3 linked regions of the Homo sapiens genome follow. The protein of the gene in region 3 interacts with the protein of the main gene of each other region in a pairwise test. Each region holds a gene or a part of one and is shown on either strand. Other genes may lie near its edges. The genes, in order: TXNDC15, QKI and HLCS.

Evidence for each region.
Region 1: the proteins of HLCS (region 3) and TXNDC15 interact in a two-hybrid assay, tested with the Homo sapiens proteins (one large-scale study listed by BioGRID and IntAct).
Region 2: the proteins of HLCS (region 3) and QKI interact in a two-hybrid assay, tested with the Homo sapiens proteins (one large-scale study listed by BioGRID and IntAct).

What each region holds. Positions count from the first base shown.
Region 1 is NC_000005.10:134,887,797-134,891,449, forward strand, and holds part of TXNDC15 (thioredoxin domain-containing protein 15 isoform 1 precursor), read left to right. Parts: coding exon 1-386; intron 387-3,653. UniProt on the Homo sapiens protein: Acts as a positive regulator of ciliary hedgehog signaling. Involved in ciliogenesis.
Region 2 is NC_000006.12:163,571,707-163,575,359, reverse strand, and holds part of QKI (KH domain-containing RNA-binding protein QKI), read right to left. Parts: 3' UTR 1-3,653. UniProt on the Homo sapiens protein: RNA reader protein, which recognizes and binds specific RNAs, thereby regulating RNA metabolic processes, such as pre-mRNA splicing, circular RNA (circRNA) formation, mRNA export, mRNA stability and/or translation.
Region 3 is NC_000021.9:36,956,633-36,960,285, forward strand, and holds part of HLCS (biotin--protein ligase), read right to left. Parts: intron 1-3,653. UniProt on the Homo sapiens protein: Biotin--protein ligase catalyzing the biotinylation of the 4 biotin-dependent carboxylases acetyl-CoA-carboxylase, pyruvate carboxylase, propionyl-CoA carboxylase, and methylcrotonyl-CoA carboxylase.

The sequences.
Region 1 (3,653 bases), on a different chromosome or scaffold from region 3:
TGGGCCAGGACAGGGCAGCAGAAGAGGCCAATGCGGTGCTGGGGCTGGACACCCAAGGCGATCACATGGTGATGCTGTCTGTGATTCCTGGGGAAGCTGAGGACAAAGTGAGTTCAGAGCCTAGCGGCGTCACCTGTGGTGCTGGAGGAGCGGAGGACTCAAGGTGCAACGTCCGAGAGAGCCTTTTCTCTCTGGATGGCGCTGGAGCACACTTCCCTGACAGAGAAGAGGAGTATTACACAGAGCCAGAAGTGGCGGAATCTGACGCAGCCCCGACAGAGGACTCCAATAACACTGAAAGTCTGAAATCCCCAAAGGTGAACTGTGAGGAGAGAAACATTACAGGATTAGAAAATTTCACTCTGAAAATTTTAAATATGTCACAGGTAAGGAAAAATTATTTAGTGCTTTTCTCCTTTTCAGTACATTTATTTTATGATTAATACCCTATCAACTTTGAAATGGAAAATCATGATCTTGATCATATTGTAAGCGAGATAGCATTTAATGGCTGCTTCAGTGAAAATCAACTTTGCCCTCTGTGATGTTTATAGGGAGACGAGGAAATATAACTAGTGTTGATTATGCTTTTCAGATGGCCTAAACCTAGTTATCCTTGGGCCAGTCTCACCACCAAACCTCACGATAGAAATCCCAGTGGACAGATAGTTGCTTGGCACCAAAATCATAGCATTTTTCCTTTTGAGACAGAGTTTTGCTCTTGTCACCTAGGCTGGAGTGCAATGGCATGATATCGGCTCACTGCAACCTCCGCCTCCTGAGTTCAAATGATTTTCCTGCCTCAGTCTCCCATGTAGCTGGGATTACAGGCATGCACTACCATGCCTGGCTAATTTTGTATTTTTAGTAGAAATGGGTTTCACCATGTTGGCCAGGCTGGTCTCAAACTCCTGACTTCAGGTAATCCACCCGTCTCGGCCTCCCAAAGTGCTGGGATTACAGGTGTGAGCCACCGTGCCCGGCCATTTTTCTTCTTCCAAATGAAGTATTTATTTATTACAGAGGCAATTTAAACATATCTGGATTACTAAAATTATAATTTACCATTATTTAGACTAGTAATGCCCCTGGAAAATATGTTATATTGATGAAATTTTCTCTTTCATCAATGACTGACAATTTCTGTGGGGTGGTTCAGAAAACAGAAGGGTAGGATGCATTCACACTGCTTATGTAAGAGAGGTAAATCCTGACTCTAAGAGCTGTGACTGTTGTCAGTGAGGGCACAGCACCTGTAGTGCACATAGCTCCTCCAAGGGCAGTGCTCGGCGCTGGCTTTGCATCCACTCCTGAGTGCCTGTAGATGCTGTGGTCTGTGGGACTCCCACAGGTGTCACTCACATGACTGGGAGAGAGCAGTTTAAACAGTCTGAGTTATGGATTAAACAGGTGGTGGCAGGGACGGTGTACCCTTTTTCTTTTTTTGACACAGAGTCTCACTCTGTCACCCAGGCTGGAGTGCAATGGGATGATCTGGGTTCACTGCAACCTCTGCCTCCCGGGTTCAAGTGGTTCTCCTGCCTCAGCCTCCCGAGTAGCTGGGATTACGGCACATGCCACCACGCCTGGCTAATTTTTGTATTTTTAGTGGAAACGAGGTTTTACCACGTTGGCCAGGCTGGTCTCAAATTCCCGACCTCAACTGATTTGCCCTCTTTGGCCTCCCAGAGTGTTGGGATTACAGATGTAAGATACTGTGGCTGGCTAGGACAGTGTACTCTTGAATTGATCTAACCTTTGGCCAAACATATCGATATGACTGCTTAGTTCAGACTTAGCTCTGCTGAGATGATAGTTTGGATTTGAGATCGTAGTCCTCTAATAATTCCATTTTAGATGGTTTGAGATGCACAATTCAAAGGTGGGGGCAATTGCCTGGACCCTGTGAGTACTTAGTACAGGCATACCTCAAAGATACTACAGGTTTGGTTCCAGACCACTGTGATAAAGCAAATATCGCAGTGTAGCAAATCACGTGAATATTTTGGTTTCCCAGTGCATACAGAAGTTATACTATATTGTAGTTTATTAAGTATGCAGTAGCATTATGTTTAAAAAATGTATATACCTTAATTTAAAAATACTTTATTGCTAAAAAATGCTAACGATCATCTGAGCCTTCAGTGAGTTGTAATCTTTTTGCTGGTAGAGGGTCTTGCCTTGATGTTGATGGCTGCTGACTGATCAGGATGGTAGTTACTGAGGGTTGGGGTGGCTCTGGCAATTTCTTTGAGACAGAGTATTGCTCTGTCACCCAGGCTGGAGTGTGGTGGTGAGACCATGGCTCACTGCAGCCTTGACCTCCCAGGCTCAAGTGATCCTCCCAGCTCAGCCTCCCAAGTAGCTGGGAATACAGGCATGTGCCACCATACCTGGCTAATTTTTTTCTTTTTTTTTTGTAGAGATGAGGTCTCACTATGTTGCATAGGCTGGTCTCAAACTCCTGGGCTCAAGTGATCCTCCTGTCTTGGCCCCTCAAAGTGTTGTGAGTCGTGAACCACCATGCCTGGCCCACAGTTTCGTTTCGTTTTTTTCTTTTCTTTTCTTTTCTTTTCTCTTTTCTCTTCTCTTCTTTTCTCTTCTCTTTTCTTTTCTTTCTTTTTTTTTTGAGATGGAGTCTCACTCTGTCACCCAGGCGGGAGTGCAGTGGCGTGATCTCAGCTCACTGCAACCTCCATCTACCAGGTTCAAGCTATTCTCCCACTGCAGCCTCTCGCCGAATAACTGGGATTACAGGCGTGCTTCACATGCCCAGCTAATTTTTGTATTTTTAGTAGAGACAGGGTTTCACCATGTTGGTCAGGCTGGTCTTGAACTCCTGACCTCAAGTGATCTGCCCACCTTGGCCTTCCAAAGTGCTGGGATTACAGGCATGAGCCACCACACCTGGCCTGTGGCCCACAGTTTCTTAATTCCTTTCACGAAAGAATTCTCTGTAGCATGCAATGCTGTTTGATAGCATTTTACCCACAGTAGAACTTCTTTCAAAGTTGGAGTCAATCCTCTCAAACCCTGCTGCTGCATTATCAACTAAGTTTATGGAATATTCTAAATCCTTTGTCGTCATTTCAACAGTGTTCACAGCATCTTCACCAGGCGTAGATGCCATCTCAAAAACCTACTTTCTTTGCTTATCCATAAAAATCAACTCCTCATCTCTTCAAGTTTTATCATGAGATTGTAGCAATTCAGTCCTATCTTCAGACTCCACTTCTAATCCTAGTTTTCTTGCTATTTCTACCACATCCGCAGTTCCATTCTCCATTGAGGTCTTGAATTCCTCAAAGTCATCCACGAGGGTTGGAGTCAGCTTATTCTAAACGCCTATTAATGTTGATATTTTGACCACCTGCCATGAATCACAGATATTTTTAAAGTCATCTAGAATGGTAAATCCTTTCCAGAAGGTTTTAAATTTATTTTGCCCAAATCCATCAGAGGAATTGCTATCTATGGCAACTATAGCCTTATGAAATGTATTTCTTAAATAATAAGAGTTAAAAGTTGAAATCCCTCCTTGATTCATGGGCTGCAGAATGGATGCTGTGTTAGCAGGCCTGAAAACAACATTCATCTCCTTGTGCATCTCCACCAGAACTCTTGGTTGACCAGGTGCATTGTCAACGAGTATA
Region 2 (3,653 bases), on a different chromosome or scaffold from region 3:
AACTTTTTTACATTTCCTACATAAAAGGCAGCAATGACATAATTATACATAAAGTACCCTTAACTGAAAATGAGATGAGGCTGCATTCATAGGCTTCAGAGAATAGTAAATTGCATAGAAATTCATCAATTTAAGTTACATGGTACCATGACAACTTGTATATTAGCAGCTTGACAGACAGCTTCGAATTTTCACAGACTACTACATGAACTGTTATGGCAACGGAAACTTTTACAAATAGTAGCATGTTAAAAGACCTGTCCACCTAACAGTACACTACCCACCGCTCCCATCAGAGACATGACACGGTTTGTTTACATGATCCAAATGACCATCTCAATGGTGATTCGCTGTTATCACTCACATCAGCTAACACTACTCTGTGTATTTATATGTGTGTATACATATTTATGAAATGAGAATACCTGGACAGTCTGATTGGTTAACAGCGTATTGGTACAGTTTTGTCTTCTATTACATGTCATTCATTTCAGCCCTCAATTTTAGAACTCTAAATAAATAAAATGTAATTTACAAAGATAAATTGTTATTTACAAATGCAAAAATTCATCCTGAGGATTTTGGTATCTAGGAGAACTGTTTCACAGAAAAAAGCAAGTATCAATCTGTGAAATAAAAATGCACCTTGAGTTAAACTAAATAATTCATAATTACAGGTTAATTTACCCAAGTTCCAGCCAAGAAAAGCATGAAGATATTTAAGAAATCTTAAATTGATTTGCATGCAAGAAATTAATCACATACAACTTTTCAAATCCCAATGTTATTCCCCCTTAAACTTCTTGTTTAATGTTTTAGTCTGACTGTATTTGTAAAGTAGGTGACAGAGAAAAAAATACCTGAGGAAAGCTCAGTAACGTGCTGAGGGTTCTTTTCCTCACTGGAAAGCAGCGGGGCTTCAGGCCACCATGAGAAACAGCCAGTGGGCCTTTGACTTTACCCAAGTTAAGCTCCCCTAATAGGAGTAGTTAGCTAAACAAGTTCAACGCTTTCCAAAGGAAAAAGGTCAAGTTAAAACAAAAATCTAAATAAAGGTAAAATATCAACAGTTTCTCTGCTTTACAATGTGACCATAAAATTACTTATTTACAGAAATTAAAAGAAATGGTTCAACAAAGAATCAAACTGGTTTCTCCAGGTATATACCATGACAATGTATCTTTTTACTCGATGCTGTGAGCAGACAGTGATTATTTTGGAGAAGGAAAAATAAGGTGTGGAATTAGTAATGCAGATGCTGAAAGGCAAGTGGCAAGAGAAGAATGCCTCAAACAAAGGCTACTTTGTTCCCATCTCTACTGCACCTACACCCACACCCGCCCCGGCCCCCAAGCTAAAAGACCAGAATAACCAAAGCCATTTTAACAGTAGTGTGCAAAACTGTCAGCTGACAAACAACATAAAAACAAGTCACACTATGTTATCTGTGGTCACGTTCTTCAGGGTTAGTCCAGTAACTCAAGACTTTACATTCTTTTGTCTTTATTTGTTTATTTTAATTAAACATATAAAGGTTAATAAACAGACAAAGTCCAGAGTTAGTAGGTTGGTATTATAACATTTATTAAAATAATGCTGTGGGTTAATAGAAACAGCAAAGAACCAAAGAATTAAAATGCAAGCTATGTAAAATCCCAACTAAAACCCAAAAGTGTCTAATGTATTCATTCATTAGCTAACTAAAAGCCCAAAAAAGACAAGACACCCAATATAATAAAGTACTGCAAAACAATTGGCAATTTTCAGTTATCAAAATTGTGGATTTTGCATTTTGTATCCTTTTCTCAATCAAGAAAAAAATTCTTTTTGAATGTTATATAACATACATATAAAACAAGATAGAAAAATACATTATAAACTTGTAACAATGGCTGTAAATACATTATCTTACATGTTTCTCATAGGCAATAGGTTGGTTATGGTACATACATAGCATGAAACTAAGATAATAAAGAATAGACAAAAATACATGTCAGCTGTACGATAACATACAAGCGACACTCCCATCTACCCACGCTAAAAAATTACATAATACTGTCAGAAAAAAAGTCTTAAAAACTACATATTTTAATAAGAAATAAATTCAATAAAGAATGATAATACTGAGAACCAAGGCATTCAGAGATTTCAAAAGTCATGCTTTTTTCAGTTGATCCAAAATTTTGTCAACCAAGTTTTCAAAAGTTTGTTCAGAGCCAACATTCCCTATAAATGTCACACATTTATTATTTCATACATTTACTTTCTTCCCCATAAAAGACCTTTGATAAACATCTAAAATGTCCAGGTATAACATAGTTGAGATGAAACTGGATCAAATACTGGTATTGTTTTTAACAACTATCACCTCAAGTGTTTGAGTGTCGCAAATTTATTCAACCAACCAAACAATATAAAAATCAAAATGGCACAGCATATATTGTAAATAAATCAAAACTGTATGTGTAACAGAAAGACAAAGCAGTGGCATATTAAACCAAAGCTAGCTGGATACAAAACAATGAATGTCTATTGCATAGTAAATAAACTGACAACGGTTTCCAAGTGAGACAAGATGGTGGGGGAGGTCACCAAGAAGGTAATGACTCAGCTTCCTGCTGACCTCTGACTGTGATGCTGGGAAGGTGTGGAAGAGGGGACGAGTTGATAAGCTGGGCGGGGGGGGGGGTCCACTGTCACTTGAGATTTGCCACGTCTGGTACTGAGCAGTTAATGATTATTCACTCAAGTGTTTAGATGTAGGCTTTGCACACAAATTGCTTCAACTACATAACTAACTGTTTCAACTTCTTGAGAAATTAGAAGCTTAAGCTGAAATGTGGTTGAGTATTTATATGCACTATGATGCTAGTTTTTCACATTCTTTTAAAGTTAAGGGGTGGGGGAGGCAGAGGTTATTGAAACAGTAAAAGGATACACTACACCAGTTATCTGGTATGATATAAAGACATGTGATTAAATTTGGGTGATTTAAAACATTGTTTTCTAGAATGAAAATCACAAAGATTCACTTTTGTGAAAACATTTGCTAGGTATCCTATTATATTCAATTAATTAAAAACAAAAAACAAAATCAAATGAATGCATCCCCCTTCTCCAAATAAAACAAAGCTCTAATTTTGTCTGTAAACTGAAGTTTAGATGACACATAATTTTTATCTCAGAATCCTTTGGGTTAACATTGAAGATTGGAATAACCAAAAGTATTAAACTATTCTTTTAAAGAATGATGTTTTAAAACTTACTAGTCAGGCATTAGAAAAGTTATCAAATCTTTTCACAGTATCAGATTTGGCAAATTTGCATCAAGGTAACGTGGCAAAAATCCTATAATTCAAACTATCAACTCATTTGTCTCCCTCATATCTTCTTTCACATACTGGGCGACTGAGTAACATGCATTAACTTGTATTCTGAGGGAGGAGCTGATCTTTATGAGACACTTGACTGAATGACCATGAAGGAAAATAAGGCACTTTCTTTTCTTTAGACTTATTCCAATACTTAAAAAATAAAAAAGAAAGACAAAAAGGCTCTTTTGGTCTTTTGTTTCTTGACAACCACCAGAAAAAATCATTTAATGAAATAAAGGGTTTCTTTGTTCTTTTTCTTTTTTTTTATAACACTTGAAA
Region 3 (3,653 bases):
GGCAGGAGAATGGCATGAACCCGGGAGGCAGGGTTGGCAGTGAGCCGAGATCGTGCCACTGCACTCTAGCCTAGGCAACAGAGCGAGACTCCGTCTCAAAAATAAATAAATAAATAAAAAATAAATAAAAGTCCAAGGAGCCAGAATGGTGGCTCATGGCTGTATCACAGCACTTCGGGAGGCTGAGGCGGGCAGATCACCTGAGGTCAGGAGTTCAAGACCCACCCTGGCCAACATGGTAAAACCCCGTCTCTACTAAAAATACAAAAAATTAGCCGGGTATGGTGGCAGGTGCCTGTAATTCCAGCTACTTGGGAGGCTGAGGCAGAAGAATCGCTTGAACCCAGGAGGTAGATGTTGCAGTGAGCCAAGATTGCACCACTGCAGTCCAGCCTGGACAACAGAGCCAGACTCCGTCTCAAAAAAAAAAAAAAAAAAAGCCCAAGGAATTGGTTACTGATAGAATCTGGAAGTTTGTCCCCTCCAAATCTCACGTTGAAATGTAATCCCCAGTGGTTGAGGTGGGGCCTGTGGGGGAAGTGTTTGGGTAATGGGAACAGATCCCTCATGAATAGTGTGGTGCTGTCCTCCCTATAGTGAGTGAGTTCTCACAAGACCTGGTTGTTTAAAAATGTGTGGCACCTCCCCCAGCTCAGTCTCACTCTCATTCTTGCCATGTGACACACCTGCACCTCTGTCACTTTCTGCCATGACTGTTCCTCAAGGCCCTCACCAGAAGCACATGCTGGCACCACTCTTCCTGTATGGCTCGCAGAACCTCTTCTTTATAAATTATCCAGCTCCAGGTATTTCTTTATAGCAATGCAAGAACTGCCTAATACAGTTACCATATGACAAGGCCTCTTTGTAGTTCAAAAAGAAAAGCCAGATATTAGCAATTTCATGTGATTTGACCTACTTGATTATTTAATTTATATTTTCAATAAATTCAAAATCATTTTTAAAATAAAAATAAAGTTTATGAATCGTCTTTTCTGCATATGAAAATTAGCCCTGAATTGGCTGGGCGCAGTGGCTCATGCCTGTAATCCCAGCATTTTGGGAGGCAGAGGCAGGCGGATCACGAGGTCAGGAAATCATCCCGACTAACATGGTGAAACCCCGTCTCCACTAAAAATACAAAAAATTACCTGGGCGTTGTGGCACGCGCCTGCAGTCCCAGCTACTCGGGAGGCTGAGGAAGGAGAATGGCATGAACCCGGGAGGCAGAGCTTGCAGTGAGCCGAGATCGCGCCACTGCACTTCGGCCTGGGCAACTGAGCAAGACTGCGTCTCGAAAAAAAAAAAAAAGAGGCCGGGCGCGGTGGCTCACGCCTGTAATCCCAGCACTTTGGGAGGCCGAGGCAGGTGGATCCCAAGGTCAGGAGATCGAAACCATCCTGGCTAACATGGTGAAACACCGTCTCTACTAAAAATACAATAAATAAATAAATAAATAAATTAGCCGGATGTGGCAGCATGTGCCTGTAGTCCCAGCTACTCGGGTGGCTGAGGCAGGAGGATGGCGTCAACCTGGGAGGCGGAGCTTGCAGTGAGCCGAGATCGCGCCACTGCACTCCAGCCTGGGCGACAGAGTGAGACTGTCTCAAAAAAAAAAAAAAAAGAAAGAAAGAAAGAAAGAAAATTAGCCCTGAGTTCACCAAAACCGTCGTATCAACAGCTGGTCGTCTTCTACCAAACATAAGAGACACAAGTACTGTTTGACTGGACCTAGGTTAATAAAAGCTTTATTTTGGAATCTCAATGATCTAGATCTCTTTAAAACCATTAATTCGTTCTCTAGTTACTAGAAAGGATAGAAGCATTGGTTAAAATCTTATCTCTCACTTAGCAGCTGGTTAAAACCTTGTCTAGGCCGGGAACAGTGGCTCACGCCTGTAATCCTAGCACTTTGGGAGCCTGAGGCAGGCAGATTGCCTGAGCTCAGGAGTTCGAGACCAGCCTGGGCAACACGGTGAAACCCGGTCTCTGCTAAAATACAAACAATTAGCTGGGCGTGGCAGCGTGCGCCTGTAGTCCCAGCTACTTGGGAGGGTGAGGCAGGAGAATTGCTTGAACCCGGGAGGTGGAGGTTGCAGTGAGCTGAGATCGCACCACTGCACTCCAGCCTGGGCAACACAGCAAGACTCCATCTCCAAAAAAAAAAGAAAGAAAACTTTGTCTGTCACTTAGCAATGATATTCCTATCACTTTAGGAATGTCATTTAATCTTATAACCTAAGTTTTCTTATCTTCAAAATGGCAATAATAATAATGATAATACTTTGTAGAGCCGTTAAGTATTAGTGATGACAGCTGCAGCCAGTCTGGAGCAGGGTAGGCGCGGCCAGGGATACGCGCTCTGTGGAACCAGGGGGAGCTGGGAGCAGGCAGGAGCCCTTCCCGCTTCTGAGTTGGCAGGGCAGGAGCCCAGTGCTCCCAGGCATAACTGCAGCCTCCCAGCCACAGCTGCGGACCTGGGCATCCCTGCACTCTCAGGGGTCCCAGAGGCCCCCGCTTCCCCACAGGCTTGGAAGTGCCTGATCCCGCTGCCTGGCCTCTTCCTGCTCCCTGTGCCCGCTCTGATTCTGGAGCAAAATTGAAGCTGAGCCTGGGCGGTGTCGCAACCCGGCCAGGTGGGTGCTGCTCAGGATGGCGCTGACACACCAGCCCCCTGCCACCTCAGCCCCCCTCTAGACTTTAGGAGCCACTCTGGACCACGAGGATGGGAGGGAGGCCGAGGAGGGGCTGAGGACGGCTGGTTGCAGGCCTGTAGGCACCCCTCAGCACAAACAGCCTGGGCACCTTGGACAACATGACTGACAGCAGAAGGCAGACAGGCTCATAGGTAGAAAGGGGCGGGTCCCTGGTGACGCCCTGCCTTCAAGCCAAGACCAGCCCAAAACCTGGGGACCTGGCTGTCAGTTCCAGGTGAAGCCTGTGGCCCAGAGTGAGAACTTAGAGTGCTTTTTCTGGCCCGCCCATGGCTGCCCATGGACCAATCAGCACGCGCTTCCTCCCTTCTGAGCCCATGAAAACCTCAGACCCAGCCAGACTCACACAGAGGCTGGGACTACCAGCTGCAGAAAGGAGCTACCCACTTCAGGTCTCCTGAGAGCTGTTCTGCCACTCAGTGAAGTTCCTCTCTGCCTTGCTCACCCTCCACATACCTCATTCTTCCTGGATGCAGGACAATAACTCAGGACCCACCGAATGGCAGTACTAAAAGAGCTGTAAGACAAACCAGGGCTGAAACATGTCCCCGTACTCACTACATTGCAGGCAACAAGAAGGAGAGAAGAACTGTGGCCCTTTAAGAAGCCAAGATCTAGGGGCTCCCCAAGCCAAGGCTGTAAACACCCTCTTTGGGGCTCTGCGGTTCCCAGCGTCTCCATGCTTCCAGGTGCCACCATGTTCCCCTTGTCCAGACACAGGTGCCCACAGCAAAAGCCTCATTCAGTACACCTGGTCCAGCCACAGCCTTGCATGGAGCCACCCACCCCCCCCCCCCCCGACCCTGCACTTCTCACCCACACACCCCTTGCCGCTCTGCACCCAGCTTGCCCCTGGTAGGTGTGCAATCTGAGCTGGTAGAATGAGCTGAGTGCAGCCTGCCAGGCCAAGTGGGTGGAATAAGACCAGTGGGCACAAGC